Homo sapiens: one gene and its partner. The protein of the gene in region 2 purifies or fractionates together with the protein of the main gene of each other region. This does not show direct contact. Each region holds a gene or a part of one and is shown on either strand. Other genes may lie near its edges.

The links. The genes of interacting proteins can lie anywhere in the genome.
Region 1: the proteins of PAQR9 (region 2) and CYP51A1 purify together in Homo sapiens (affinity purification with mass spectrometry, with the first as the bait; one large-scale study listed by BioGRID). This does not show direct contact.

The regions. Positions count from the first base shown.
Region 1 is NC_000007.14:92,127,978-92,131,477, forward strand, and holds part of CYP51A1 (lanosterol 14-alpha demethylase), read right to left. Parts: intron 1,080-3,500; coding exon 903-1,079; intron 1-902. UniProt on the Homo sapiens protein: Sterol 14alpha-demethylase that plays a critical role in the cholesterol biosynthesis pathway, being cholesterol the major sterol component in mammalian membranes as well as a precursor for bile acid and steroid hormone synthesis.
Region 2 is NC_000003.12:142,960,875-142,965,070, forward strand, and holds the start of PAQR9 (membrane progestin receptor epsilon), read right to left. Parts: upstream 2,801-4,196; 5' UTR 2,463-2,800; coding exon 1,329-2,462; 3' UTR 1-1,328. UniProt on the Homo sapiens protein: Plasma membrane progesterone (P4) receptor coupled to G proteins. Seems to act through a G(s) mediated pathway. May be involved in regulating rapid P4 signaling in the nervous system.

The DNA of each region.
Region 1 (3,500 bases), on a different chromosome or scaffold from region 2:
CCCATACCAAGCATTGGGGCCAATTGTCTGATTTGTGTTCTATATCAACTTAAAACAATTTCGTATTTGGCTTTTGAGGGTAAAACATACACATAGATGTACCCCACACGTGAAGTTGTTGCATTAAAAGAGGACTTCTGAAGTCAGCAATCTCTAAACAGCGCTTATGTTAGAATTTCAGGCAGGAATGGGTAGGCAGGAAGTCCTTTTGATGAAGTAACAGCATTGTCTAATAACCCTTTCAAATTAAATCCCAGTATGCTAAGTTATCATTGATTCCATTATTTGTACAGGAAGCCCTTTAATATTGTTTAGCCATGACAGCAAATATAAAACTAAATACCCATTACTTATCAGTTATCCATGGCCTTTCTTCTCATGATTCTTCAGACTTTTGAACCAAGGAATAAACTGGTTCTACATTTTATTACATTTTTGTTTGGTTGGTTTCTGTGTGTGTGTGTGTGTGTGTGTGTGTGCGCGTGCGTGTGTGTGTGTGTGTTTGGTTTTTTGTTTCTGTTTTTGAGACAGGGTCTCACTCTGTTGCCAAGGCTAAAGTGCAGTGTTGTGATCTCGGCTCACTGCAACCTCCGCCTCCTGGGTTCAAGCGATTCTCATGCCTCAGCCTCCCAAGTAGCTGGAATTTACAGGTGTGCACCACCAGCCCCACCCAGCTAATTTTTGTATTTTTAGTAGAGACAGGGTTTCACCATGTTGGCCAGGCTGGTCTTGAACTCCTGACTTTGAGTGATCCACCCACCTTGGCCTCCCAAAGTGCTGGGATTACAGGAATGAGCCACCATGCCTGGCTGTTTCTACATTTTAAATGTATAATGTCTCACTATTAGCTATAACTACTGAGGTATAGATTTGTCTTTATTTATGGTAACAGTGTCACCTACTGGATTAGGCACATCGTATGCAACTCCCTTCCCAAACACAGGTGTTGTCAGGCGACTGTAGACATCTTCTGCATTCAGGTCTTCATTTTTACTATTAAAAAGCAGTGCAGCAGCATCACTCCCCAGAAGGTAAGTAAATGTCTTGCCTACCATGGTAAAACTAAATACAGGTCCATACTAAAAAGAGAAAAGTACATATAGTGATGTTACAAAAAATATGCAACACTACGACAGTAACTTTTTAAAATCACAAAATAATGCATTATTAAAAAAATAAAAACATATATAAACCTTAAAGCAATTCTTTTCATCTTGCCATACTCCTCCTTCCTTTGTCCAAATTTATAATTATGTTCATTTAGTTGCAAATGTAGTATAAATATAACTGTTTATTATGCTTTTTTCAGTTTATATTGACAATGTTTTCTATTGTCTATATAAACATCACAATGTTAATTTACTGACTACTCTTTCATTATTGGACATATGGGTGATATGTCAGGGTTTTCTTTAGTTATTACAGCTAATTCTGTGATGAACACCTCTGAAAATATAGACTTCTTCCCCCTTTGGTTAAAAACAAATTTTACAAGACTAGCCAAAGAATTTGACCTTTTCTATAGTACCTGCTATGTGAAGACACTACAAGTTTATTTATCTATTTTAGCACTATCTCACCTACACTAAATGACTTCATTTTTTATTTTATATTAATTTGGTTAGATGTTAAATACTTTCCCTTGCAGTTTTCTGGTTATGATTGAAGACTAGACTCTGGGGGTATAATCATGAAAAAAAATACTGTCCCAACTCACCAAGCTTAGTCTATTGGAAAAAATACAAATTAATCAAATAATCACATTAACAAACATAAAACTGCAAATGTGACAAGTATTACAGAAAGGAAAGCAACTCTGTGATGAGAGAATCTAAAAAAGGGAGACCTAATAGAGGAAAAGACAACTAGGTTGAGACCAGAAGAATGAGGAGCTGGTTTGGTAGCTAAACATACACAAAGGCCCTAAAAGTAAGAGAAAGAGAAAGGAGGAGATGAGAGTTGAGCATTAGGCAGTGCTAGACCATACAGAGCCTCATAAGCCATTTTGAGGAAGTTTTTAAACGGGTGACAAGAATTTTTCAGAGAAAAAGGAAAGATGCCATTGAAAAAGAAGTCAACAATACACTGAGAAAACAAATAAAAGTAAAAAGTTCCTGAGACAAAAGAGGGATGGAGAGTTCAGCCTCCGATAAGAGGCAAAATATAGTTGTAATAAAATCAAAGTGGTAGAACGCAGTGAGCCAGACTGTCCGTGTTCAAATCCCAGCTCCTCCACCTACTTGCTGTATGACTTTGGTCCTATAGTCAGAGAACTTAGTCTCTCTGTGTTTCGTTTCTCTCACCTATAAAATGGTAATAATAATAATAGCAGTTCTTCACAGAGCTGCTGCCAAATTTTATATACAGGGCAGAGAAGAGTACCTTGGCTTACTTAGCATCTTAATGACTTGTTTTCCATTATTGTTATCATTAATAAAAGTATAGGCTCAGAAATCAGACCATGTGTAAATCCTGGCTTGGCCACTGTCTAGCAGTGAGTCCAAGAAGAAATTATATATCCTCTCTGCTTCTCAGTTTTGTCATCTATAAAACAAATATACCTGAAAGGGTTTTTGTGGAGCTTCAGTGAGATGATCTTTGTAAAGCACTAAGTACTGGCATAAAGTAAGTGTTTGATAATTATTACTGTGATAGGAAGAAAGAGAATAGGATTACTATATAAATACAAGTAGGTTTGCATATTTGAAATTGAGAAAATGAGGAAGTTTTCTTTGAATGTTTTAATAATTGTCTCCTAAATCAACGTTTTTAATCATTGTCTCCTAAACAGGAGAAAAAATCATCTGCTTTGATGGAGAGGTAGAAAGATTCAGAAGTTTAGAAAAGTGAAGGTTTGAATTAGTCACTGTAATGAGTGGAAAAGTAGGCCCAATCACAAGAACATAATAGGACTGTGGAGCAGTGTTCAAATATCATTAAGGTAGGCAATCATAAAATCAGGAAGAAACTAATCTGGTGCAGAAGGAGACAATAACTGGCTGCCTCCAAGGGTGACTTCTGCCAGCTGAACACAATGAAAAGATGCGGGGTCGAGGAAATTTAAAGTACAGTATTGCCAAGAGTGTAACAGAAACGACATGCCATGGACCCAAAGCGGAAAGAGGAAAGTGAAGAATGAAGGCTGATGGATCAGGAGAAAGTAAATGGAATGCAAGATCCAATGAGGTCAAAGAATAGTTATAATTTAAGGAGTTGCACAAGCAAACCAGGAGACGGTATGGTCTACGAATAGGATATCTAAATTAATATTGTGGAAGTGAAACAGTTAAGAGTGACAAGTCCAAAGCGAGACTGTGAAGTAAATGGCTTAACTGGCACAGGGAAGCTCATTAGAGAGAAGACGGGCAAATAATTGAGTAGCTATGGTGTCATGTGGGTCATTCAAGTGGACAGTGAAATCACAGAAGATGTATAGAGCAGGTTAGAAAACCCCACAGATGCATGGTAAAGAAAAATGAGGGTTAATTAATATCAATTTT
Region 2 (4,196 bases):
CAAAATTTTCAGTGACAACTCAATAATGTGCTCCTGCCTTTCATAATAAAACTGCCTTGTTTATTCTTGGATATTATGTTTTTAATTTTAAGCAAGGATGGATGGCATCAGTCTAGAACTTCTCCCATGGCTGCATTAGAAACACATCTACATTAGAGGGTTGGCTCTTTGTCCTTGTTGGGAACCCAAATGCTCTGCACGCTCCTGTAAGCTATCTCCAATCCCACCAAAAACTTGAAACCAACACCATCTTCTGCCCTCCTGGATGGACCATGAAACCTTGATTTTCAGTCAGGTAAGAAAAGCTTATTCTTACTACTCTCCCCATGTAAGAAACTGTGTTTGAGGACCAGTCATTTGGACTTTGCTTCAAAAGGCACATTTATTCCAGTGGCAATTTAAATAAGTAGAGAAGGAAAAAAAAAGATTAAAAACAAAACAAACTAACAAAAACCAGGATGGGTTTTGTGGAATACATTAAAGTAAACAAAAATCTGGGGTCTATACAAACCACTCGAGCTCCTCACCAATAGTTTAACCAGAGTCCCTAAGGTAGAATTCACAGTTGTATCATGACACACGCCTTCAGAAAACACTGTTTAAGAAAGTAATTGAGAACTCTCAAGCAGCTTCCCCTGATGTCCAGTTCAAGTGTATGCAATGCAGAAGGCTGTGAAATTCAAAACTATGTGACAAAGAAAATTCAGTGCGTACCACAGGCTTTGATAAATTATGAAAAATCAATGTATATATTACTATTTAAATAACATCTGAAAAACATTTTGAAATAATTAACTTGTGTTCACATTCCATGCATTTTCTAGCAGGTTAAGCCCTGGGTTTGCGTCTTTGTGCCTGTTTCCTACAAAGCTCCATTCTTTTGACAAATCCAAGCATTCCTCAGACTGAAACAGAAGTTCCCAAGGATTCTATTTACCCTCTTTACTGTGTACCTGACCTCACAGGGGCTACTCCTTATTACCAATGGCACAGATGATTGGAAAAGCAAACTCTTTGGGGCTTTATTTGGGATTTTACTCACTGCCTTTGAGAAATCCCTGGATGTCAAAGACATCACCTGAATTTTTTCCAGGGGCAAGAACAAGTGACTATCTCCCTCCCGCTTGACCACCCCTGCCAACCTCCCTACTTCAAAGCCTCCAGTGGGTTGGGATCCCTTTGTAGCAGTGAACTTTTTCCCTATGGTTTTGCAGCACCTTCCTTGAGCAAAGAAGAAAACACAATGAAATTTGAAAACAAACCAACAATAGCAACAACAGAAACTCCAAACAGATGGGCGAACCAGTAGTCTCCTCCAAGGCGGAGGCTCACTTTTTACTGCAGAATTCGGAGCTGTTTAGGAACTTCCTGATTACCAGCCCCAGGCAGACCACCAGCAGCAGCATGTAGCCCACAGTACCCGAGAAAGTGGGTGCGGCAGGCGGCGCCTGGAGGAACTGGCGCAGGCCCTCTTCTACGTAGTACACCTGGTCGTAGATGCTGAGGAAGGTGAAGATGTGGAAGAGCTGGTGGCTGTGGCCGATAATGTCGAAAAGACCCGGCTGGATGCGCTCGGGGATCTTGCTCACGTTGAAGAAGGCGGCCACCACCAGCCAGAAGTAGCGGCGGTAGAAGTGCACGAAGAGTGTGGGGTTCTCCCCACGCAGGTCGAAGAGCCAGCTCTCGAGCATAATGGGGCAGGCCATGCTGAGCGGCATGACGAAGACGAAGGTGCGCAGCGCGAACGGGTAGGTACACCAGTCGGTACGGCTCTTGCAGCAGGCCACAGTGCAAGCCACCGCCAGCACGAAGGCCACAGGCAGCACCAGGGCGCGGTAGGCGGCGATAAGGCGCGTGCAGTCCACGTGCCAGCCCAGGCGCTGCTGCAAGTATGGAGTCATGACTCTGGCATCCAGCAAGCTGAGGCCTGGCAACAGGTAGTAGTAGTAGGCCACCGTGCTGCCGAAGCCGTAGTAGCTGATGGACGCGTAGTCCAGGTAGAAGAAGGCGGCGCGCAGACGCAGCGACAGGCAGCTGAACACGTGCGCCGTGCAGCTCATGGCGAAGGTCAGCAGCACTCCCGACGCGTAGCACCACAACGGTAGCAGCCACGGGTGGTGGAAGGGCACGTCGCCGCCGCTCAGGAAGAACAGACGGCAGAACTTGCTCAGGAACAGCAGCAGCGGGATGAAGTGCGTCCAGAAGTTGAGCGTCTCGTTGGTAGGCTTCAGCACCGAGGCTAGGCACTCCTGGGCCGTGCACGGCAGACGCCGGTAGCCCGACAGGATGAAGCACTCCACGAAGTCGTCGGGCACCTCGTCCCAGCGCAGCAGCGGCTTGGCAGACGCTGGGGGGTCCCGGGAGGCGGCAGAGTGGGAGTTCCGGGCGGCCCCCGAAGCTGCCGGGGCCGGGGCCGGAGGGCCTTTTGTGCCCGCGCCCCGGGGCTGCAGGCGCCGCGGCATGGTGCCCGGGGCTCGGCTAGGGCGCGCGCAGGCGACCTCTGGCGCCGGCTCCCGGGCGCTGGGCAGCCCCCGCCGGCCGCCGTCGGAGCCTTTGTGCCCACGCCGGGGGCGTCGCTGCAGGTTTAGGAGAAGACCCGTGCCTCCGAGCAGCCGCTCCTAAAAATTAAATAAATCAATAAGAGAATCAATTAATAGGCAGCGCTGCGACCGCCAGGAGCGCGGAGCGCGCGAGGCTCAGCGGCTTCCTCGCCAAGCCCCTGCTACCGGCGCGCGGCCGCCCGCGCTGCGGCAGCGGCGGCGGCGCGGCTGACTGCGGCGGCAGCGCGGCAGCGGTGACTGGGCATCGCGCGGTGCGGGTGCCTCCGCCGCCGCCGCCCCCGGAGCGGGAGGTGGGGATGTGCGAGCCGAGGCGCGGAGGGAGGGACGGGCGCACCGAGGAAGGGCGGGGGCCTCCCAGGCTAGGGTTTCGCGGCCGCTTCGGGGGATAGAGTTGTCCCCTGTCTCGAGTTCCGTACCATCCCCCTCCTCGGGCCGCCGCAGCCCGGGCCGCCCCGTTAATGATTGATGCGGGGGCCGCAGGCTGGTCGGCGACGCGGCGGCGCGCGCGCCGAGTACTAGAGTCGGCCCTGGGGTTCGAAACCCGACAGCCACGCGGGCGTTCTGGAGGACACTGGGGAGCCGCGTTCGCGGGGGGCGGGGAGCTGCGGCTGCGGGGGGAGGGGAGGGCGCCGGAGCCGGGCAGGGCGGAGAGATGCGCCAGCGGTAATCTCCGGAGGTCGCCGGGGAGGGGGGCACTCCGGAAGTCGGGGGGCTTTAAGCCCGCGTCCGGATCGGGGCCGTGTCATTGTCAGCTACCTGGGGATGCGCCTCTCGCTCCCTCACTGTCTTTGCGTGTGTGTTAGTGTGTGTGTGTGTGTGTGTGTGTGTGTGTCGGCCTGTCTACGCACTACACGAAGGCTTAGTTGGTCTTCTTTCGTCTAGTGGGCGCACTCAGGTGCGTCACCATTCTGCCGTTTCCCTCGCCCTTGTCCTGTCCGAAAGAACCGTCCGCAAGCTGCCCTGTGGTCGCGCTCACCAGCTCTTCGAGCCGCAGCTAACCCATCTTCTTGTTTTTGTGTCTTTAACTAGGACTTCTATTTGGAACTGAGTCCGACAGCTCAGGACTGGCTGCTCAAACTCCACAATTTAATGAAAAATCTCAGATGATGACTCAGAAAACCTCTAATGATCTGAGGAATATATTAAGGGATTCCAGAGTCAAAGGCTGATCATGGAGGGCATTGATGAGGGAAGACTTCAGGTAGGAGGTGCATTCTAGCAGGAACTGAAGAGAATGAAGTCCAGTTGGTAGAAACGGAGGGGGTGGCTTGGATAAATCTTATATGTAATTAATCAGAAGTACCTGGCAGGTGGCTGGAGACCAGAAGAAAGGAACACTGGAAGAATGAAAACGGTTGTGATGCACTGCAGTGTGAAAATATGCCCTTGAGCCTTAAAGAAAGGGGCTTAAGGCCGGGCGCGGTGGCTCACGCCTGTACTCCCAGCACACAGATCACGAGGTCAAGAGATTTGAGACCATCCTGGCCAACACGGTGAAACCCCGTCTCTACTAAAAATACAAAAAATTATGTGGGAGTGGTGGCGCACGCCTGTAGTCCCAGCTACTCGGGAGGCTGAGGCAGGAGAATCGCTGGAACCCAGGAGGCGGAGGAGGTTACAGTGAGCCGAGATCGC